Linked DNA regions of Homo sapiens. The protein of the gene in region 2 purifies or fractionates together with the protein of the main gene of each other region. This does not show direct contact. Each region holds a gene or a part of one and is shown on either strand. Other genes may lie near its edges.

The links.
Region 1: the proteins of SPTLC1 (region 2) and CDK12 purify together in Homo sapiens (affinity purification with mass spectrometry; one large-scale study listed by BioGRID and IntAct). This does not show direct contact.
Region 3: the proteins of SPTLC1 (region 2) and NRBF2 purify together in Homo sapiens (affinity purification with mass spectrometry; one large-scale study listed by BioGRID and IntAct). This does not show direct contact.
Region 4: the proteins of SPTLC1 (region 2) and RAB14 purify together in Homo sapiens (affinity purification with mass spectrometry; one large-scale study listed by BioGRID and IntAct). This does not show direct contact.
Region 5: the proteins of SPTLC1 (region 2) and FAM76A purify together in Homo sapiens (affinity purification with mass spectrometry; one large-scale study listed by BioGRID and IntAct). This does not show direct contact.
Region 6: the proteins of SPTLC1 (region 2) and ALDH3A2 purify together in Homo sapiens (affinity purification with mass spectrometry; one large-scale study listed by BioGRID and IntAct). This does not show direct contact.
Region 7: the proteins of SPTLC1 (region 2) and COPG2 purify together in Homo sapiens (affinity purification with mass spectrometry; one large-scale study listed by BioGRID and IntAct). This does not show direct contact.

The regions. Positions count from the first base shown.
Region 1 is NC_000017.11:39,520,486-39,523,985, reverse strand, and holds part of CDK12 (cyclin-dependent kinase 12), read right to left. Parts: intron 1-3,500. UniProt on the Homo sapiens protein: Cyclin-dependent kinase that phosphorylates the C-terminal domain (CTD) of the large subunit of RNA polymerase II (POLR2A), thereby acting as a key regulator of transcription elongation.
Region 2 is NC_000009.12:92,105,414-92,108,913, forward strand, and holds part of SPTLC1 (serine palmitoyltransferase 1), read right to left. Parts: intron 3,422-3,500; coding exon 3,327-3,421; intron 1-3,326. UniProt on the Homo sapiens protein: Component of the serine palmitoyltransferase multisubunit enzyme (SPT) that catalyzes the initial and rate-limiting step in sphingolipid biosynthesis by condensing L-serine and activated acyl-CoA (most commonly palmitoyl-CoA) to form long-chain bases.
Region 3 is NC_000010.11:63,150,328-63,152,925, forward strand, and holds part of NRBF2 (nuclear receptor-binding factor 2), read left to right. Parts: exon of another isoform or gene 1-29; intron 30-1,822; coding exon 1,823-1,863; intron 1,864-2,598. UniProt on the Homo sapiens protein: May modulate transcriptional activation by target nuclear receptors. Can act as transcriptional activator (in vitro). Involved in starvation-induced autophagy probably by its association with PI3K complex I (PI3KC3-C1).
Region 4 is NC_000009.12:121,181,370-121,184,869, reverse strand, and holds part of RAB14 (ras-related protein Rab-14), read left to right. Parts: intron 1-1,471; coding exon 1,472-1,559; intron 1,560-1,909; coding exon 1,910-1,940; intron 1,941-3,296; coding exon 3,297-3,474; 3' UTR 3,475-3,500.
Region 5 is NC_000001.11:27,728,961-27,732,460, forward strand, and holds part of FAM76A (protein FAM76A), read left to right. Parts: intron 1-1,271; coding exon of another isoform or gene 1,272-1,373; intron 1,374-3,500.
Region 6 is NC_000017.11:19,651,751-19,655,250, reverse strand, and holds part of ALDH3A2 (aldehyde dehydrogenase family 3 member A2), read right to left. Parts: coding exon 3,473-3,500; intron 2,705-3,472; coding exon 2,619-2,704; intron 1-2,618.
Region 7 is NC_000007.14:130,508,744-130,511,748, forward strand, and holds part of COPG2 (coatomer subunit gamma-2), read right to left. Parts: intron 1-3,005. UniProt on the Homo sapiens protein: The coatomer is a cytosolic protein complex that binds to dilysine motifs and reversibly associates with Golgi non-clathrin-coated vesicles, which further mediate biosynthetic protein transport from the ER, via the Golgi up to the trans Golgi network.

The DNA.
Region 1 (3,500 bases), on a different chromosome or scaffold from region 2:
CAATGTATCAACATTCTAGTGTAATAAATGAATTTGGCTGGGCGCGGCAGCTCATGCCTGTAATCCCAGCACTTTGGGAGGTAGAGGCAGGCGGATCATGAGGTCAGGAGTTCGAGACTAGCCTGGCAACATGGTGAAACCTGGTCTCTGCTAAAAATACAAAAATTAGCCAAGTGTGGTGGTGTGTGCCTGTAATCCCAGCTACTAAGGAGGCTGAAGCAGGAGGATTGCTTGAACCTGGGAGGTGGAGGCTGCAGTGAGCCGAGATCACACCACTGCACTCCAGCCTGAGCAACAGAACAAGAGTCTGTCTCAAAAAAATAAATGAATTTGGACATTTCTTTGGAGCAATCAGATTTAGAATTACTACCTACTCATGAACTAACATCCTATCCATTTTTAAGACATGTAGTCTTTCTTAAGAAAATGACCTCCAAAATTTGACATTAAAGCTATAATACTGTCACTGACAAATTCAAAGATAAAATACTTTTTTTTTCTTTTTCTTTTGAGACAGAGTCTTGCTCTGTTGCCCAGGCTAGAGTGCAGTGGTGCAATCTCAGTTCACTGCAACCTCCGCCTCCCAGGTTCAAGTGATTCTCCTGCCTTAGTCTCCCTGAGTAGCTGGGACTACAGGTACACGCCACTACGCCTGGCTAATTTTTGTATTTTTTAGTAGAGACGGGGTTTCACTATGTTGGCCAAACTGGTCTCGAACTCATGACCTCAGGTGATCTGCCTGCCTCAGCCTCCCAAAGTGCTGGGATTACAGGCATGAGCCACCGTGCCAGGCCAGATAAAAGACTTTTTATGTGCTATAATGTGGGATATGAATCTCTGAAGCTCCAATACAATACAGAGGCATTCATAAGATTTTAATTAAATAGAGACATATTAAAAGATCATATTTCTTTTATGTTACTTTAATTTTTTGAGATGGAGTATCACTCTATGGTCTAGGCAGGAATGCACTGGCACAATCTCGGCTCACTGCAACCTCCACCTCCCGAGTTCAGGCGATTCTCCTCCCTCAGCCTCCTGAGTAGCCAGGACTACAAGCATACACCACCACACCTGGTTAATTTTTTGTATTTTTAGGAGAGACGGGGTTTTACCATGTTGGCCAGGCTCTCTTGAACTCCTGACCTCAGGTGATCCATCCACCTCGGCCTCCCAAAGTGCTGGGATTACAGGTGTGAGCGACCGCGCTCGACCGAAAGATCTTATTTCTTACATCAAAATTCAGTAATCTGGCTGGGTGCGGTAGCTCACGCCTATAATCACAGCACTTTGGGAGGACGAGGCAGGCGAATCACCTGAGGTCAGGAATTGGAGACAAGTCTGGTCAACATGGTGAAACCTCATCTCTACTAAAAATACAAAAATTAGCCAGCTGTGGTGCCGGGCTCCTGTAATCCAGCTACTCAGGAGGCTGAGGCACGGGAATCGCTTGAAGCCGGGAGGTGGAGGTTGCAGTGAGTTGAGATTGTGCCACTGCACTCCAGCCTGGGTGACAGAGTGAGAGACCCTGTCTCAGAAAAAAACAAAAACAACAAAAAAAACTGGCAGTGATGCAAACCATTTAAAACTGGGACTGTTGGCCGGGTTCAGTGGCTCACGCCTGTAATCCCAGCACTTTCGGAGGCCGAGGCAGGCAGATTACCTGAGGTCGGGACTTCAAGACCAGTCTCACCAATATGGTGAAACTCTGTTTCTACTAAAAATACAAAATTAGCCAGGCATGGGGGCGCATACCTGTAATCCCAGCTACTCGGGAGGCTGAGGCAGGAAACGCTTGTGGTGAGTCGAGATCACACCACTGCACTCCAGCCTGGGCAACAAGAGTGAAACTCTGTCTCAAAAAAAATAATAACAAAAAAAACCCCAAAAAACTGGGACTATCTCTGCAAGTGTGAGATATACATGGTCACCAGAGACATGCATGATTACAGCTGGAGGAATGGTTAAGAGCAAAAACCAGAGGGAGGCCAAGCATGTGTCTCCTGCCTGTAATCCCATGACTTTGGAAGGCTGAGGCGGGAGAATCACTTGAGCCCAGGAGTTTGAGACAGTCTGGACAACATTGTGAGACTCCATTTCTACAATTGGAAAAAAAAAAAAAAAGGCTGGGAGTGGTGGCTCATGCCTGTAATCCCAACACTTTGGGAGGCTGAGGCAGGCAGATCACCTGAAGTCAGGAGTTTGAGACCACCTTGGCCAACATGGTGAAACCCTGTCTCTACTAAAAATACAAAAAAATTAGTCGGGCGTGGTGGCCTGCGCCTATAATCCCAGCTACTCAGTAGGCTGGGACAGGAGAACTGCTTGAATCCAGGAGATGGAGGTTGCAGTGAGCCGAGATCACGCCACTGCACTCCAGCCTGGGCGACAGAGCGAGACTCCGTCTCGGAAAAAACAAAAAAGGCTGGGAGCAGTAGCTCACATCTGTAATCCCGGCACCTTGGGAGGCCAAGGCGGGCGGATCACCTGAGGCCAGGAGTTCAAGATCAGCCCGGCCAACGTGATGAAACCCTGTCTCTACTAAAAATACAAAAATTAGCCGGGCATGGTGGCGTAATTCCAGCTACTTGGGAGGCTGAGGCAGGAGAATTGCTTGAAACTGGGAGGCGGAGATTGCAGTGAGCCAATATCACACCACTGCACTCCAGCCTGGATGCGAAGAGTGAAACTCCGTCTCAAAACACACAAACAAACAAACAGGCCAGGCACGGTGGCTCACACCTGTGATCCCAGCACTTTGAGAGGCCAAGATGGGCAGGAGTTCAAGACCAGCCTGGCCAACATGGTGAAACCCCATCTCTACTAAAAATACAAAAAAATGGCCAGGCACTGTGGCTCATGCCTGTAATCCCAGCACTTTGGGAGGCCGAGGTGGGCAGATCACCTGAGGTCGGGAGTTCGAGACCAACCTGACCAACATGGAGAAACTCTGTCTCTACTAAAAACACAAAATTAGCTGGGCATGGTGGCACGTGCCTGTAATTTCAGCTTGGGAAGGCTGAGGCAGGTGAATCGCTTGAACCTGGGAAGCAGAGGTTGCGGCGAGCTGAGATTGCGCCATTGTACTCCAGCCTGGGGAACAAGAGCGAAACTCCATCTCAAAAAACAAAACAAAATGAAACAAAAATACAAAAAAATTAGCCGGGTGTGGTGGCAGGCACCTGTAATCCTAGCTACTTGCAAGGCTAAGGCAGGAGAATCGCTAGAACCCGGGAGGTGGAGGAGGCAGAGCAAGATTCCATCTCAAAACAACAACAACAACAACAACAACAAAAACACGCTGGACGCAGTGGCTTACGCCTGTAATCCCAGCACTTTCGGAGGCCAGGGTGGGTCACCTGAGGTCAGGAGTTCGAGACCAGCTGGGCCAGCAAGGTGTAACCCCGTCTCTACTAAAAATACAAAAATTAGCTGGGTGTGGTGGTGTGTGTCTGTAGTCCCAGCTACTCGGGAGGCTGAGGCAGGAGAATCGCTTGAAC
Region 2 (3,500 bases):
AGAGACAGCAGGGCAGGCGTGGTGGCCCACGCCTGTAATCCAGCACTTTGGGAGGCCCAGGCGGGTGGATCAGGAGGTCAAGAGATTGAGACCTGAGGAGCATCTCTGCCTGTACCATCTGGGAAGTGAGGAGCGCCTCTGCCCGGCTGCTCCACCATCTGGGAAGTGAGGAGCGCCTCTGCCCAGCCGCCCCACCATCTGGGAAGTGAGGAGCGCCTCTGCCTGGCCACCGCACCGTCTGGGCAGTGAGGAGCGCCTCTGCCAGGCCCCCACCCTCTCTGGGAAGTGACGAGTGCCTCTGCCTGGCCGCCTCACAGCCCGGGAAGTGAGGAGTGCCTCTGCCCAGCCGCCGCCCTGTCTGGGAAGTAAGGAGCGCCTCTGCCTTGCCGCCGTCCTGTCTGCGAAGTGAGGAGTGCCTCTGCCCGGCCTCCTCACCGTCTGGGAAATGAGGAGCGCCTCTGCCTTGCCGCCGTCCTGTCTGCGAAGTGAGGAGTGCCTCTGCCCGGCCTCCTCACCATCTGGGAAATGAGAAGCACCTCTGCCTGGCCGCCGTCCCATCTGGGAAGTGAGGAGCACTTCTGCCCAGCCGCCACCCTGTCTGGCAAGTGAGGAGCACCTCTGCCCGGCCCCCTCACCGTTTGTAAGGGAGGAGCGCCTCTGCCCAGCCCCTGCACCGTCTGGGAAGTGAGGAGCGCCTCTGCCCGGCCCCCTCACCATCTGGGAAGTGAGGAGCGTCTCTGCCCGCTGCTGTGCAACCTTCCAAGTGTGAAGTGACAGCCTTGTGTGTGATCTTTCTGCCCTCCCCAAGTCTGCATTTTCGACATTAAAGTTTACTTTTTAATTAAAAAAAAGGAGATTGAGATCATTCTGGCCAACATGGTGAAACTCCGTCTCTACTGAAAATACAAAAATTAGGCAGGCATGGTGGCTTGTGCCTGTAGTCTCAGCTACTCGAGAGGCTGAGGCAGGAGAATGGCTTGAACCCAGGAAGTGGAGGTTGCAGTGAGCCGAGATCGCACCACTGCACTCCAGCCTGGTGACAAAGCAAGACTCCGTCTCAAAAAAAAAAAAAAAAAAAAGTAAGACATGGCAAACTGCAGTGGCACCCAGCCTGCCCCTGCTGTCTCCACACCTGCTGAGACTCCCTGCCCCTGGCCACCTACACTTCACGGATCCCAGCTCCTCGTCTTACTCTGACTCGGCCCACGTGCTGTTGGGCCCCTCATTTTGCCTGTCCCTCCACCTTCTCTCACACCAAGAATTGAGTAAAATTTGATATCCATAATTCCTAACTCTTCCCTGGCTCTTCCCACTGACCTTGCCCCCATTTTGGGGGTTCCACCTAATGAGAAAGGAGGCTGCTCTCATTCAGCTGCAGTTTCAGTGCCTCTGACCTCTGACCCATGCCCCACACATCCTAGCCCCACATCTTTCTCCTTCCAGCCTCCCTTCAGAAGGGAGCCTCCTACACCCATATGTGTGCATTCCTCTCCTCCTCTTTCCTCCCCTCCTCCTCTTCCAGCAACTTTACTATAGAAAACAAAAGACCCAAGTATGCAAGCAATATATACCATGTAAATGGGTAGTGAGATTAAGTATCAGCAAGATACCAAGCCTCCTAAATTAATCCATAAATTCAACACACTTCTAATAAAAAACCCAAATGCATTTTTTTGGTTAAATATGATCACCTAAACCTAAACTCACAGTGAAGAAGGGTCAAGAATAGTCTAGACAATTTTGAAGAACACGGAGATAGAAAAACATTCTAATCAACGTTTATTATAAAGCTGTGGTATACATGAATGAGTCTCTGGTATAAGGAGATACGAATATATCCAATGAATAAAAATAAAAGCCAGAAATAGACCCTTTAGAAGGGAATCTGGCTTACCAAAGAAGGGAAATTTCCAAGCAGTAGGTAAATACTGGATTATTCAACTAATAATGCTGAGACAACTGACCATCATATGGAAAACAATCAAATTAGATCTTTAGGGTAGGAAACGATTCCCTAAGACTTCAAAAGACCAAACTATAAAAGATTGGTAAATTTGGGCCAGGTGCGGCGGCTCACGCCTGTAATCCCAGCACTTTGGGAGGCCGAGGCCGGCGGATCACAAAGTCAGGAAATCGAGACCATCCTGGCTAACACAGTGAAACTCCATCTCTACTAAAAATACAAAAAATTAGCCGGGCATGGCAGCATGCGCCTGTAGTCCCAGCTCCTCGGGAGGCTGAGGCAGGATAATGGCGTGAACCCGGGAGGCGAAGCTTGCAGTGAGCCGAGATTGCGCCACTACACTCCAGACTGGGCGACAGAGCGAGACTCTGTCTCAAAAAAAAAAGATTGGTAGGTTTGATTTCAGAATATATAAAAGTTTTATAAGACTGAAGAGATCTACAGAAGTAAAGAATAGAAGCTCCTGTTTGATCAGATCAGAATCAGAACAATACTACTCAGGAAAATATCTTGTATCACATTTTAAAATAAACCAAGTATTTTTATGGCAACAGGCATATATGGTAAAATTATAAATATAGGCAAAGAAAACACAATCACCAACTTCAAGACAGTAGTTATCCGTATGAGAGGCAAGAGTAAGTGATGGATGTGAAGGAATTTCTTAAGATGCATTTGTAATATTGTATTTACCTGTAAAAGTAAGTTTGAATTAAAAATAGCAAAATGTTAACACCAATTAATTCTGGGTGGTAGGTATATAGGTGTCTGATATCTATATCTATATCTGATAACTTTCTATATTCTTACTGTATTTCTTAATTAATGAAAATACATACAATATAGCAAAGATAGCCAAGAGAATGAAAAGTAAAAAATAGATGAGACACTGGAAGCAAGGAGGAAAGAGGCATAAGTGAGCGGAAGCTCCATAATTCATATTGTGGGGATCAACAGGTGTTGTCTGTAGTTGATGAATCAACAAATGGTAGTTAAGCATACTATACAGTATCTAGAATTATGAGGGTAACGTGCGACAAATTTAAAATCAGAAAATAACCAGATGGGTAAAAAGCAGAAGTCTGTTGCTTTTCATTTTAAGTGTTCGACCATTGGAAATATTAACATGTGTGCATTCTTGGAAAAAAGGGCAAACATTAATGCTTAAATTGGAGATTTTAAAAAATGCCTGTATCATCCCTAGAATAAATTTTTTAAAATCAGGAGCTAAAGCTGTTACTCCTGGGAACTTCAAAATGTTTTGTTTCAGATAAAAAAAGGACTACTACATATAAAGCACTATAGACTGCAGGTTACTACAAGAAGCCAAATACAAGTACTTCAGGTAGCAAAATCAATTTACCCTGAAACGATGTTGTAGTTGAGAGCAGGATGGTCTTTTGGGACAGGAGGAACAAGAGGTTCTGGTTGCCACTCTTCAATCAGTTCTTCTTTTTCCTACAGGAGAAAAAGAATTAAAATACAGTGCAGTGCTAATATTATCAATTATTAGTGTCTCTGCAACTTCAGTATTTCT
Region 3 (2,598 bases), on a different chromosome or scaffold from region 2:
ACAAGGGTTGTGGGAAGGATGTAATTATGGTAAGCATAGCTGGAGCAAAGACTGTATAACCAACTCTGTTTTTTCTTTCCTTTTTTTTTTTTAAATTCTTTTTAAATTGATACAGGGTCCCGCTATGTTACCCAGTCTAGTCTTGAACTCCTGGGCTCAGGCAGTCCTCCTGTTTGGCCTCCCAAAGTGCTAGCCACTGCGCCTGGCTCCAACTCTTCTTTTTCTTGGAAAGGGAGCATCTAATTCAGCAGTCCCAACCTTTTTGCTGCCAGGGACTGGTTTTGTGGAAGTCAATTTTCCATAGACCTGGGGTCAGGAAAATGGTTTTTGGATGATTCAAGCACATTACATTTATTGTACACTTTATATTTTACAATGTAATAATAGAAATAAATAATTATACAACTCAACATAATGTAGAATCAGTGGGAGCCCTGAGCTTGTTTTCCTGCAGCTAGACAGTCTCATCTAGGGGTGATGGGAGACAGCGACAGATCATCAGGTATTAGATTATCATAAGGAGAGTGCAACCTAGATCCCTTGCTTGTGCAGTTTGCAGTAGGGTTTGTGCTATGAGAAGCTAATGCCGCTGCTGATCTGATGGGAGGCAGAACTCAGGCGGTAATGCAAGCAATGGGGAGTGGCTGTAAATACAGATGAAACTTCACTGGCTTGCCTGCTGCTCACTTCCTGCTGTCTGTGTGGCCCAGTTCCTAACAAGACATAGACCAGTACCGGCCTGGGGGTTTGGGACCCCTGATATAATTGTATCTTAAAGACTGTGGTAGAACCTAGCAGGCAAGAACTCTTAAGTTATGACATCAAAGCATTAAATTATTTGGATTAAGACTGGACAGAAAGCAATGCCTCGTAGTATCTGCAAAAGGGCAAAAGAGGAACTTAATGTAGGTATGAGAGATGCCAAAAATGTTTATAACAAGCAAGATAAAAATGGAGATTCATTATGGACAATTCATTGATAATAGAGAACTTATTTATACCTAACCTTGTTCCCGAAAGGTTATAAAATGTCTTACAGATGAATGTACAATAAAATATCGAATGTAATTAAAGATACATAGATAAGGACATCCATAGAGAAAATGAGAAAGGACTAGTAGTGTAGTTCACAAAATGTACCATTAGTTCTTGCATATTTTTTTAAGAACTTGACTTAAGTTTTCTAGCAGTCATCCTAAAGAGGAAAGATAATAATTTTTACATTGGCTATTAAAATTCAAACAAATAGTCACCGAGGATCTAAGATCAGAGAGAAGTTTATTGAAGGTCTTCATAAATGACATTATACTGTCCTCAGTAACTTCCTCGCAGTAAATATGTCAACAAGTTCTTAGGGCTTTTAACCATAAGGCTGATGGTTTAACTCAGAGACAATTCATTAAAAGTGATTCTATAGGAGTCCAAAATGATAGATTCCAGGTATTCAGACGGATAAAAAGTCATTGATAATCTCATGATATTTTTGTGAGTATGATGAGTAATAGGGTTTGGATAGGTTCTTGTTTGATTTTTATCTTTCCTAAACCTATTTTTCTGATTAGACCATCTTCAGTTTCTGAATTATAAAATCTGTAGGAGTTTTAAATAACAAAACCTTCAAGATAGGGTAGGGAATATTTTCATTTTATTGCCACTGACATCCTTTTGGGGGAAGTTAAGAATTCTTTTAAAAAATCCCCAATTGTATCAGAGTTATCAGACCAGTTCTCTTTGTCATATGAAGATTATTAAAACTCTTCCTTTTACCTGTTAATTACAAAATGAAGACACATATTAACATGCCTATTTTTTCTCTTAACAGCATATCTTTCTGAAGCCATGAAGCTGACACAGTCAGAGCAGGTGAGACATATTCCCAATATTTGCGACAAGGGTTAGAAAGGTTTTCTTGTGGAGGCTTGAATTGTGTGTAAAGCAAAGCATTGTGTCCCTCTCAAAATGCTATAGTCAAAAATATATAAAATGGGCAAGGGAAGAGCACTTCACAACGGAAATTAAAACTAAATGAACTGCAGTCGATGCCCCAGACATGGAATGCAGAAACTTCTTTTTTTCTAGTGGTTACTCACAGATCTCAGATTGCCAGCCAGATGTACCTTTTAGAGAGCCCTCTTCGGACCATTCCTAATCATTAGCTCTTATTTGATCATTAGCTTACAGTCAGTAAACAGGCCTGGCCAAGAGGAAACTAGTTGGACCACCCTTTGCTTGTCAAAGATAATTTAAATCTGACCAGTCTCCCACTTGTCTTTGCTTGAATTCTTAAGCAGTTCAGGCACTTTTAAATTTGTTTCACCAATTGCTTTAAATTGTCTTCTGTGTTTGGGGAGGCCCTGCCAAGTGTTTCAAGATACATTTATTCATAAGACTGGGCATGGTGGCCCATGCCTGTAATCCCAGCACTTTGGGAGGCCAAGGCAGGGGGATCACTTGAGCCCAGGAGTTCGAGACCAGCCTTGGCAACACAGTGAGACCCCATCTCTACAAAAACTTAAAAAATTAGCTGGGCGTGGTGGCACATGCCTGTAGTTCTAGCTACTTGGGAGGTTGAGGTGAGAGGATCACTGAACACCTGAG
Region 4 (3,500 bases), about 29 Mb from region 2:
GTCATTGTGGCTTTACCAGACTTGATTTTTTATAAATTGATTTCCTTTTTAAGTATCATTATTTTATTCTTTTAAAATACTAATGGATAGTATATGAAAGTTTCTTCCCCTTCACAGTGGGCACTTTGTCCACACTGTTTAAAGAATGCTCACTTTTGTTGTACTACTTAACTGTCCTTGCATGAGGTTTACATTCAGATAAAAATGATTATTTGGTTTATGGACACACATTTTTGAAAGTGGAAGAGCCAGGAGCTGTAATTTTACATGAAAAAAAGTTAATGGCTGAAGTGCCTTTTAGTTGAAACCATCCATTCCTAAAGTGTTCATATCTAGATTACCATATCTGTTTGGAAGGGGGAAAAAGGGAAGGATTTTACCAGTTGGTGTCAAATAAGCTCATAAATGTACAAAGACAGTTTATCCATAACCCCCCTCCCCACCCCAGGTAAAGGCCAAAGCCCTTTGCTGTTTCCCAAGGGTACATATTTTTTTCTTACAACTTTGCAGAGCTGCCTTTAACTTTGGCCTAACTTCACTTGTATGAATGGTTCCAAGGTGGATATAGGTTGGTGGGTGATATTTTGCCTTGGATTTGAACTTACTGCATACGTGCCCCCAAACCCCTACTCCCAGCTGCCCCTTGTGTATACACATAGACATCTCTTATCAGTTACTGTTAACTATAAACTCAATCCTTTCTAGGGATAGTGTGGGGTAGGATAGTATTTGTCTCAAGATCTCAGTTTGGGTTTCTACCTGAGATCTAATGTCCTCCTACCACTGACTCACTGAGTGACCTTCAGCAAGTCCTTTTGCCTTATTTGAGCTTCAGTTTCCTTACTGATAGCCTAAAGGAGTTGAACCTAGTGGCTTTCAAACTTTTTGAGGATCTCAGAACTGTTTGAAAACCTGATGGAAGCCATGAATCTTCTCCTCTAGGGAATGCCCACAATTACAGTATTTACAGTATTTCAAGGTATTTACAGATCCCCTGGAGCTTGTCCATGAACCCTTAGTAATCTTACTCAGCTATATCGTAATCTTTGGACTAGACCAGGTGTCACCAAAGTATGTATGGCCTGTGGGCCACATTCAGCCCACAGCCTGTTTTTGACTGGCTTGTGAACTAAGGATGATTTTTAAATTTTTAAAGGGTTGTTAAAAACAACAACAAAAAAACCCAGCAACGAACATGTAACAGAGACCATATGAGGCCCACAAACCTGAAGAATATAGTATTTATTCTTTACAGAAAGTTTGTCAACCCCTGACCTAGATCATTGCTAAGGTCCTTTGTAGTAATGACTTCATGAATCTGTAGCCCTGTCTAGTGGATAATTGCTAGTACTTGGTTTTCTTTTTAGGCCCAGTCATTTTTTCTATCAAGATTTTTGGATTTCAGAATTTGCATGGTTGGTTTAAATTACTGCTTTTGTTACAAGGTGTCTTTCTTTTGATCACAAATTAGGTAATAATTCTCATAGGAAATAAAGCAGATTTGGAGGCACAGAGAGATGTTACATATGAAGAAGCCAAACAGTTTGCTGAAGAAAATGGTGAGTTTCTTTAAGACTTAATGGTCACAATTGGGAGAATTTTTAAGGAAAGGTGGGCTTGACAGTTTTGTTGGTTTTTTTTTGCATTTTTTTTTTAAATGCAGACTCAGAAATCTCAAGAATGAGGAAGTAACAATGTGTTTCTATTTCTGTGTGATTTATGTTGGAGCAGTACAGTTATTTAGTGACAAATATAAAGATGCTCTCCACCTCAAACTTACATACTTTTTCATAAAATACTATGGGAGGAGTACTAAAAACTGATGGGAAACTTTTTCAGATGTTACTAAAGAAGTGCACTTGTGAGTTAGTTTGAAGTGTCCTAATTATAGTCTGAATTTTATTTTTAGGCTTATTGTTCCTCGAAGCGAGTGCAAAAACGTAAGTGTGACCAAAATACAGATATTTCAATTATATTCAAGTTTCTCAAAGTAGAACCGTATATATGAAAAGTATATAATGTATATACACATATAAAGTACTATCTATAAATGTGTAATGCTTACTGCAGGAAGAACAGCAAACATCTCTTTGCTTCCTTTTTTACATTTCAAAATAATATGAATTTTTGTTACTTAAAAGATTGTACCTTGATTATGCCTGTTGGTAACCCAGGTTAATAAATGAAACTTTGTTTACATTTCAAAAGTGTTTGACTTTTCCCAAATGACAGTGTTTGACTTTTCACAAGTGAGGTTGAGTTTGGCATCTCAGACAAGCTTGGTCAATCTGTTCTTCCTGTAATACTTCTGATCACATTAAAAAGCATGATTTAAGGGAATAGTGTCTACTCAGAAGCATAGTGAACATTTTCTAATTGTTCTTCCATGTCTGCTATTGAACTGTGGTACACCCATCATTGTTCTTCATTTATTAGGCCAAAAATTTCTTGTGGTGAGGAGAGGCTAACCTGTTTTCGTTTAGTCTCAGCTGTGCTATTAGTCCAAAGAAAACTGAATGGAGGTGTTAACGTGGCTAAGCATGATTATGTCACCATTACCCGATTAAAAACAGCTCAGTTCATGCTTGGCTGAGCAGACCATATTATTCTTGGAATTTTTTTCAGCATGTTCAGAGAGATTTCATTTCTGTTTGGAGTATCCTCTCTGTTATCACAGAAATGACCTATCTGAATTGTCATGGTGTGTATTAACATACAGTATTTTAATGATTGCATATAACACATGTAGTTGTCCAAATAGGGTTTGTAGAAAGGGCTTTCAGTACACGTATGTATGTATGCTTTCCATAGAAAGTAGTTTTCCGGCCGGGTGTGGTGGCTCATACCTGTAATCCCAGCACTTTGGGAAGCCAAGGCAGGCGGATCACGAGGTCAGGAGATCGAGACCACCCTGGCCAACATGGTGAAACCCTGTCTTTACTAAAAATACAAAAATTAGCTGGGCGTGGTGGTGTGCTCCTGTAGTCCCAGCTACTCGGGAGGCTGAAGCAGGAGAATCGCTTGAACTTGGGAGGTGGAGGTTGCAGTGAGCTGAGATCGGGCCACTGCACTCCAGCCTGGTGACAGAGTGAGTCTCTGTCTCAAAAAAAAAAAAAAAAAAAAAAGGAAAATAGTTTTCCATGTTCTCTTAGCTCAGTGTTCTGGTAATCTCTTATTAGATGACAGTGGTTAAGTTGGAGACATCATGGCAGTTAACTAAAGATTAGCAAAAGGTCAGTGTCTTGTCTTTTGTAGAAAACTGTGGTTCTCCAATAAAGTTATCAATTGCCTCTTAGGGGAGAGAATGTAGAAGATGCCTTCCTTGAGGCTGCCAAGAAAATCTATCAGAACATTCAGGATGGAAGCTTGGATCTGAATGCTGCTGAGTCTGGTGTACAACACAAACCTTCAGCCCCGCAGGGAGGCCGGCTAACCAGTGAACCCCAACCCCAGAGAGAAGGCTGTGGCTGCTAGTGACCTCTTTGCTGTGGCCCCTCATT
Region 5 (3,500 bases), on a different chromosome or scaffold from region 2:
CTCAAAAAAAAAAAAAAGTGTGAAATGCAGGTATGAGTGGTCAGACATCTTTAGGGGGCATTTCCATAGCAACAAAGTGATTTTTTTTTGGTACCAAGTTTGATTCTTGTGGAACTTCTGTGAGTGTAGGTGATCCTGCCTTGAGGAGAGTGGGATCTATTTGTTAATTCATCCATTAGACCTAGAAGCCTATTTTTAATTATTCATTTCAATTCTTAGAATATCTTCTCCAAGATTTTATCATGGATTTTTTTTTTTCTTTTATGAGACAGGGTCTCTCTCTGTCACCCAAGCTGGAGTGCAGTGAGATGATCTCAGCTCACTGCAACCTCCCCTCTCCGGGCTCAAATGATCCTCCCACCTCAGCCTCCCATATAGCTGGGACCAGGGGTGCACACCACCACACCCAGCTTTTTTTTTGTATCTTTAGTAGAGACAGGGGTCTTGCCATGTTGCCCAGGCTGGTCTAGAACTCTTGAGCTCAACCAGTCTGCCTGCCTCGGCCTCCCAAAGTGCTGGAATTACAGGCGTGACCGACCACACCCAGCCTATCATGGATGTTTTCAAACAAAAAAAAAAGGTTAAAAGAATTAGTGAACACCCATATGCCCTCTACTTAAATTCTATCATATACACTTTACTATATATTCACCTATCCATCTGTTCATCTCTCTCTCCATCACTATATCAATTCATTTTATTTCTGATGTATTTAAAGTTGCAGACATCAGTATACATGACCCTTAAACACTTCAGCATGCACAGCATTATTTAGAGTTAAATATTTGTTTGCAGCTCTTTTTGTGTGTGTGTGGCAAAATTGGCTTACACTAACATGCTTGAATCTTAAATGCATCAAGTTTTACAAACATAGACATCTGTGTAGCCCCAAACCCTATCAAAATACAGAATGTTACTGTCACCCCATAGAGTCCTCTCATGCCCCATCCTAGACAATCCCCACACCCTTGCTTCCTCCAGGCAACCCCTGTTCTACTTTTCATTTCCACCATAAATTAGTTTTGCCTATTCTGGGACTTCATGTTAGTGGAATCATACTCTAGAAGCTTTATATGTTAGCTCTTAAATTTAGGTCTATGGTCCATCTTGAGTTAATTCATATGTGGGGTGAGATAGGAACTATGACCCTTTATTTACACTATACATACAAATTAATTCAAGATGGATCATAGAGTTAGTTTTTCTTTTCTTTTTCTTTTCTTTTTTTTTTGTTGTTGTTGTTGAGACAGAGTTTCGCTCTTGTTGCCCAGGCTAGAGTGCAATGGCACGATCTCGGCTCACTGCAACCTCCACCTCCCAGGTTCAAGCGATTCTCCTGCCTCATCCTCCCGAGTAGCTGGGATTACAGGCATGTACCACCGCGCCCAACTAATTTTGTATTTTTAGTAGAGATGGGGTTTCTCCTTGTTAATCAGGCTGGTCTCAAACTCCGGACCTCCGGTGGTCTGCCTGCCTCGGCCTCCCAAAGTGCTGGGATTACAGGCATGAGCCACCGCGCCCAGCCTAGAGTTAGTTTTTCTTTGCATGTTTTTTAACATGTTAGGAACATATGTATATATTGACATCTACCCCATTCCTTCAGTAGTAAATCTAGGCGTAAATCAAAATGCTATTCTACATCACAGAATCATTGATGGTAATCCTCTTTCTAGAGATTTCTTTGAATGTCCTTCACTTATTTTACTGTCTTTTAAAAGTAACAGAAAATTGCCCTGAAAAATAATTTATAATTTAAATATTTTCTACTCTGAGGTTTTTCTTTTGTCTATTTTAACTTTATAGTCACTTTCACAGGAATTATATGGGAAAATGATCACAAAGCAGAGAATAGACTAGTTTTTTGTGTGTGTGTGTGACAGGGTCTCACTCTGTCACTCAGGCTGGAGTGCGGTGGCACAATTGTAGCCCACTGAAACCTTGAACTCCCAGGCTGAGCCTCCTAAAGTGCTGGGATTACAGGCATGAGCCACTGTGCCTGGCCTTAAGATTTTTATGTGATTTATTAGTTTTTAGCCCCAAAGTACTGTTTAAATTGTTCTTACACATAAGACATTCATTTTTACCTCCTCATGTGAAGAGTTAGACTTTTATTTGAAGATGATTTTTCCCCCGGGCAGCTTTATTAATTCACACATTTAGGTAATAGGACCTCTGGATCTTCACAAGGCAAAGGATGTTTTTATTTTTGTCAGTGCTTAACTCTTAGAGAAATCAGAATTTTTTTTTTTTTTTTTTTTTTTTCGAGACACAGTTTTGCTGTTGCCCAGGCTGGAGTGCAATGGCGCAATCTTGGCTCACTGCAACTTCCATCTCCCAGGTTCAAGCGATTCTTCTGCCTCAGCCCCCTGAGTAGCTGGGATTACAGGCACACACCACCACGCCTGGCTAATTTTTTTGAATTTTTAGTAAAGACATGGTTTCACCATGTTGGCCAGGCTGGTCTCAAACTCCTGACCTCAGGTGATCTGCCTGCCTTGGCCTCCCAAAGTGCTGGGATTACAGGCATGAGCTACCGTGCCCGGCCTAAATATTGACAAAATATTTGATCATAGTGTCTTTTTCCCCACCTCTGGTGTTTTCATATGCCTTTACTTATGAAGGAGAGCACAGAGTAAGGTTAGCAAAGATAGAATCTCTGAGTTTATATTCCAGACACACATACTTTATTTGTCACCTCAAATTTCCCAACTATTCATCCGAATTAAGGAGAATTTATTTTTTTTTCCTGCTAGTCCATTTTAGTATAATATTTTGAGGGTGTTTTCTGTATCTGATAATTTTATTTAGTGATACTTGGGGATGTCATAATCAGAAATAACTCACTCTCCATTTTAGCCAAAGCCTCACTTGTTTTTTTGAGACGGAGTTTTGCTTTTGTTGCCCAGGCTGGAGTGCAGTGGTGAGGTCTCGGCTTACTGCAACCTCCGCCTCCCGGGTTCAAGTGATTCTCTTGTCTCAGCCTCCCAAGTAGCTGAGATTACAGGCACGCGCCACCACGCCTGGCTAATTTTTGTATTTTTAGTAGAGATGGAGTTTCACCATGTTGGCTGGGCTGGTCTCGGACTCCTGACCTCAGGTGATCCACCTCCCTCAGCCTCCCAAAGTGCTGGGATTATAGGCGTGAGCCACCACGCCCAGCCACATAATAATTAAAAGAGTTATTAGAGGCTAGGTGTAGTGTCTCACATCTGTAATCCCATCAGTTTGGGAGGCCAAGGCAGATGGATCGCTTGAGGTCAGGAGTTTGAGACCAGCCTGGCCAACATGGCGAAACCTTGTCTCTATCAAAAATATAAAAATTAGTTGGGTGTGGTGGTGCGCGCCTATGATTCCAGCTACTTGGGAGGCTGAGGCATGAGAATCGCTTGAACTTGGGAGGCAGAGGTTATAGTGAGCAGATTGCACCACTGCACTCCAGCCTGGGGAACAGAGTGAGACTCTGTCTCAAAAATATTGAATAAAAATAAAAGAGTTATTAG
Region 6 (3,500 bases), on a different chromosome or scaffold from region 2:
AACCAGAACTGGCCTCAATCCATCACAAGTTGATGTACAGAATACAGGTAAGATATTTTTAAGCTGTATTTCGCTTAAAGCTAAATGAAGACTCCTCCCTGTAGCAACTGCATGTAGAACTCAGCAGTGCCAATTTCTTCGCGGCATCATAACTTCCTCCCCAGGAAGGCATAAGAACCTCTGACTCAGACAGATGAACTACCCGCAGTTGGGCAGATCATTTTCTTTATTCAGTTCTTGATATTCTTAAATGCCAGCATGTTAAGTCAGTGTGAGGATCTGCCCTCTAGTTCAGGAGGGCACTTTTTGTGTATGTGTGGCATGTTTTCATGCCACAGACATGTCTTTTTTGAAAGCAGAAGTACTCTTATAGGCTGGGTGAGAGGTGAGAGCGTGCGGGCAACCCTTGCTCGCTCTCAGCACCTCCTTGGCCTTGGCACCCACTCTCGCCACGCTTGAGGAGCCCTTCAGCCCACAGCTGCACTGTGGGAGCCCCTCTCTGGGCTGGCCAAGGCTGGAGCCGGCTCCTTCTGCTTGTGGGAAGGTGTGGAGGGAGAGGCGCAGGCAGGAACCGGGGCTGCGCGTGGCGCTCACAAGCCAGAGCGAGTTCTGGGTGGGCGCAGGCTCAATGGGCCCCACACTCGGAGCAGCTGGCCGGCGCCGCCAGCCCTGGGCAATGAGGGGCTTAGCACCTGGGCCAGCTGCTGAGGAGGGTGCCCCGGGTCCCCCAGCAATGCCAGCCCACCAGCGCCACACTCGAATTCTCGCCGGGCCTCAGCCACCTCCCCGCAGGGCAGGGCTCGGGACCTGCAGCCCGCCATGCCCAAGGCCCCCACCCCGCCCCTGGTGGGTTCCCATGCTGCCCGAGCCTCCCTGATGGGCGCCGCCCCCTGCTCCACAGCGCCCAGTCCCATCGACCGCCCAAGGGCTGAGGGGTGCAGGCGCGCAGCGCTGGACTGATGGGCAGCTCCACCCACAGCCCCGGCGTGGGATCCACTAGGCAAAGCCAGCTGGGCTCCTGAGTCGGGTGGGGACTTAGAGAACTTTTATGTCTAGCCGGAGGATTGTATATGCACCAATCAGCACTCTGTGTCTAGCTTGGGGTTTGTGGATGCACCAATCAGCACTCTGTATCTAGCTAATCTGGTGGGGATTTGGAGAACTTTTATGTCTAGCTAGAGGATTGTAAAAGCACCAGTCAGCACTCTATGTCTAGCTCAAGGTTTGTAAATGCACCAATCAGTGCTCTGTGTCTAGCTAATCTAGTGGGGACTTGGAGAACTTTTATGTCTAGCTAGAGGATTGTAAATGCACCAATCAGCATTCTGTGTCTAGCTCAGGGATTGTAAACGCACCAATCAGCACCCTGTCAAAACGGACCAATCAGCTCTCTGTAAAATGGACCAATCAGCAGGATGCGGGTGGGGCCAGATAAGGGAATAAAAGCAGGCTGCCCAAGCCAGCAGCGGCAACCTGCTCGGGTCCCCTTTGACACTGTGGAAGCTTTGTTCTTTCAGTCTTTGCAATAAATCTTGCTGCTGCTGCTCACTCTGGGTCCGCACTGCCGTTATGAGCTGTAACACTCACTGCGAAGGTCTGCAGCTTCACTCCTGAGGCCAGCGAGACCACGAACCCACCGGGAGGAATGAACAACTCCAGACAGGAGGAACTAACAACTCCAGATGCGCCGCCTTAAGAGCTGTAACACTCACCACGAAGGTCTGCAGCTTCACTCCTGAAGCCAGCAAGACCACGAACCCACCAGAAGGAAGAAACTCCGAACATGTCCGAACATCAGAAGAAACAAACTCCGGACACACCATCTTTAAGAACTGTAACACTCACTGCAAGGGTCCGCGGCTTCATTCTTGAAGTCAGTGAGACCGAGAACCCACCAATTCCAGACACATGGGCATGGTGGCTCACACCTGTAATCCCAGCACTTTCGGAGGCCAAGCTGGGCGGATCACCTGAGGTCAGGAGCTCGAGACCAGCCTGACCAACACGGTGAAACCCCATCGCTACCAAAAATACAAAAACTAGCTGGGCATGGTGGCACACGTCTGTAATCCCAGCTACTTGGGAGGCTGAGGCAGAAGAATCGCTTGCACCCAGGAGGCAAAGGTTGCAGTGAGCCGAGATCACACCACAGCACTACAGCCTGGGTGACAGAGCAAGATTCCATCTCAAAAAAAAAAAAAAAGTACTCTTATATAATCACAGAAAAGTACATTTTGTTAGAACAAAAGAGATTGTTAGTAACAGAAATATGTCAGCACCCAGCACAGTACCAGTCCCTCATTAAATAATCCATTAAATGAAAACACCTAAAATCATGTTAGCTCAAAAATTAACCCCAAATCCCAGACAAACACAGAATCTGTTTGGCATGAAGCCATGGGCCTACATATATTGTGTAACCCCAAGAGCTGGGTGACTCCACACAAAATACACTCCGTGTATTTTGGAACCGAACTTCTTTTGCTAAGCCAACTGTTGAAGGCTTAAAGAGACTGCAATTGGGTCCCCGGCCAGCAATAACATGCAATAGCAAGAAAATAAAATGTGTGTTTTCCACAGTAAACACATATGTTGGAGATGAGTCAAGAAATTCTTACCTGGTCTAAATACTGAGGGAGAAGCTTTGCCAAGATCTTGGCTGTATTTTCACTCAGTTCAGAAGGCTTTATAATCACAGCATTTCCTAAATAAAGTAAAAAGTAGAACAGTATCATCTAATATTTAACTTTAATAGCTACCAAAATGATGTTCAGTGGGAAGAACAGGCTAGGTACTCCCAATTATTTCTGCAGCTCTCAATGCTGCATATCCTCATAATTAGCATAAGAGCTCATCTCACTTTCTCTTCTAAGGCTAACTCCTTAGCTGTCCTCATCTTCAGGTCACTGACAATGGGTTCCAGCAGCCTTTCCCACTCCTCCAGCTTTCTATCGCTTTTCTCCCACTTCTGCCCTTAGATTGTCCTCTCTGCCCTGGAATTATTGGGCAAGTGAGCCATTTCAACATACATCTCTCTATCTGGATCCTGCAAAGTGAGAAATTAATCTCCTGGCATTTGCTATATACCCAAGCTAGCATTACTCTCATAGTCTTTATTTGAATGAAGAAACTGGTCAGACAGAATCAAATGGTTCATCCGAAGCCAGAGCCAGCAACTGAAACCATATTAGAACATGGATGCCTGACTCCAAACTCCTGGGCCTGCTGACTCACACATCTTTACACTCCCACAGGTTCATTCCCCAGGTGCTTCAAAACATAGCCACACAAATCTCCTCAGCAGCCCATTTAAAAATATGTATGGTATGTATGAATTCTCAGTACACTGGTGGTGTAAACAAAGGCAAATCACCAAGTAAATGTATTTAATTAGCCACTATCCTTAATTTCCAATTAATATGAGAAAATAAGCCTCCCTAAAAAGGTATATAGACATAAGGTGGCACCAGACCTGCAGCGATGGCTCCTATCAGTGGCTG
Region 7 (3,005 bases), on a different chromosome or scaffold from region 2:
TCCACATTTTCCAGTTAAACACACATGCCCTGTTGTCTGGGGTAGTGGTTCTCAAAAGCAGCCTACAAGCGGGTCAGGAAGGCAGTCTCACAAAGCATGAATGTAAAGTCTATTCCACGCTGTGGGTTACAGCAGTACAGAAATGATAACATGGGCAGACTGTTTCTCTATTGGTATGAAGAAAGCAGCAGAGAGGTACTTTTGGGGGCTTTTTGCCATGCCTATCAAAGGGGCCTAAATGTTGAAAAATAAATATTTTGAGAACCACTGCTGTAGGACCTGACCAAAAAAAAAAACAAAAAAAAAACCTGTGGTAAAAAGCATACAGATCATCAGATTAACATTGACCAATCTCATCAGCATCTCAATACTATCTTTAGATTGTGGACTGATGGCGGGTCCACAGATCACCAGAGAGAACTTGCTTTATCTGTCAACCTTCAGCCTAAAGTGAGTAGGTCAGTAATGAGTTTCTAGTATTGGTAAAGTCAGTGTCTTAAATGGAAAAGCAAGTGGGCAGTTGTATGTTTTCACACAAGTGGTGTTAAGTAATAAGAAATGGAGGTGGGGGTACATTTTTGGAAAGTGAAGTCTTTATAAAAAGTAAAGACAGTATTTTCTGAAATGTTTGAAGGAGGGGATTTAGCAAGCAGGGATGAAGAAAAGGCATTTAGGATCTTGTCTATGGTCTGGAAAAAGCTTATAGGTACAAAAAATATTAGATATTGGGAGAGTTAAAAAGTTATTTGGGGGATAGGCAAGGAGAGGAAAGAACAGGCTCAGATGTGAAGACCATATACGACAGATTGGGTAATAAGACTTTCATCTGCTCAGTCTTGACTTTAAATTCCATCCATTCATCCATCCACACATGTAGTGACTGTCAATACATGTTGACATTACACGTAAAGGTATAAGCTTATGTGCCAGACACTTGGATAAAAAGATGACTGAGACATGATCTCTGTCTCTAGGAGCTGTCTAGGAGTTAAATAAGTGTGTGGGCTGTGTGTGTGTGTGATCTATCTATGACTTTACAACTCAATGCCATAGATCCTTTAAGTTTTAAGAGAGTGCCATGTGAGGGTGCGGGATTAACAAATAGCCTGGGAAAACTGTAAAAAATGTGAAACGATATAATAGTTTAACTGGCTCTCAAAAGATGCAAAAGAGCTTTGGCAAGCAGAGGAAGATGTACAAACAGGCAAAAGGAAAGAGGCCAGAAAGTCCACCGGGCAGCTGGAAACAGTAAGAGGCATGCTAATGCCTAGGTGCTGAGAAGATAATTTGTTTAGGAATAAATTGTAAAATACCTTGTATTTCAAATGATTTTCCAACAGGCTCTGGTGAGCTGAGGCAGTCAAGAGATTGAAAGGTTAGAGATAAGCTAGATAAGGTGCCTAATTTAAGCCACTGGTGGGGACTATGAAGAATGGGTCTGAATTCAGAGAGCAGATGGATTCAACAGAATATGCTGAAAACAGACGATGGCAGTGGGTTTTCCCATATAGGAAAGAATGAACCTATCAAGCCTGCAGAATCAATTTCAATGCCATTAGGGGTTGAGAAAAGAACGACTGTGGTTTAATTAGGATAGGATTTTCTTCAGAGAGAAGGGGAAAGAAGTGAAAGTTAACACAAGGCCAGAACAGGTCAGGTGAGGCATTTTTTTTAAACCATGAAAGAGATACAGAATATGGTAGGGGAAAAGGTCATGATCAAGTTAGAATGAAGAGTCAGGAGAGACATTAATTATAGCAACCCAGTGTGGTTCCAATTAAGCAGAGAGGCTACAGCAAATGAGGAGGACAAAGAGACAACATCAGGTATGAAGGCAGATCACAGACTGGGCACAGGGGCTGAGTTTTATGTGGAGGTAAAGACAGAAGACACTTACATATAAGGACCTGATACAGAGAAAGAGATTAAGGAAGTAAATAGGAATGGTGTTAGTAGAGATAATGTTCCTGAAACCTTAGTGGGAATTTTTTTACTTAAATGGTTTGATTGATACAATGAGAGGTTACAGGGATCTAAGGAAGTCTAGGCAGTAATCTGTCGAAGCTGCTGGAGAGGATGACGAAATGGGGCGAGGAGGCAAGATGCGGGGGCCTTTCCATGGCAAGAAAATACTGAATGCACTGCCATAATGTAAATATGAGAGTTACACAGACAAAGCAAGGCAAATACCAAAGAGAATCAGGAAAGAATGCCCTGAAGATCTGCATTAAAACTGTTCTCTGAAATTAAGCTTGTCTTGTGAGGATTCACTGAAAATGAGAGTCAACCACTAAGGAGATTTGTATGAAAAGAACCCAGCGAATTAGAGAAAAGATAGATGCTGGCAGCTAAGACAGGAGAGGGACATGTGAGTTGGGCCAGGGTACAGAAAATGCAGTGTGGCAAAGGGCAGAGTGGGAAAGGTGGGAGGGAGCTGCCAGGTCTCAACCACCTGGGGGAGACCATGACAAAGTAAGAGACACTTATGAGGTATTTCCAGAAAGCTTTGTTAGAATAATAATTAAAGAAAAGGGTATGTCACTAGGGCAAAAGATTAGAAAGAAGGCAAAAGAGATGGATCTGTACAGGCTAACTGCAGCAGTCTATGCAGGTCTGGACTGAACTGAGAAGCAATGGGTGCAGCATAGTGTGTAGGACATCGAGGAAAGCTGGGCAGTGAGTGCCAAAATAAGCAATACACACCTACCTGGAAAATCGTGTTGAGTCTGTGGGAATGCTGTACAAATGGTGGGAGGGAGTTTTTCTCTAGGACAAATTCAGAAAGGGAAGGAGGAATGGTACTGGAAAGCAACATTAGAGTTGTCCTCAGATGAAAAGGAGTTGGTCACTAAGGAATGACACACATCAACAGGAAGGTAAGACAGCATTGCTGGGCCAAAAGTCATAAGAGAGTATGAAATAAGAGACTGGAAGCAAAGGAAAGAAAATATTACATAAGGAAGGGCCTACTGGCAGAGCAGGTGTGGAATAAAGATTTAGAATGG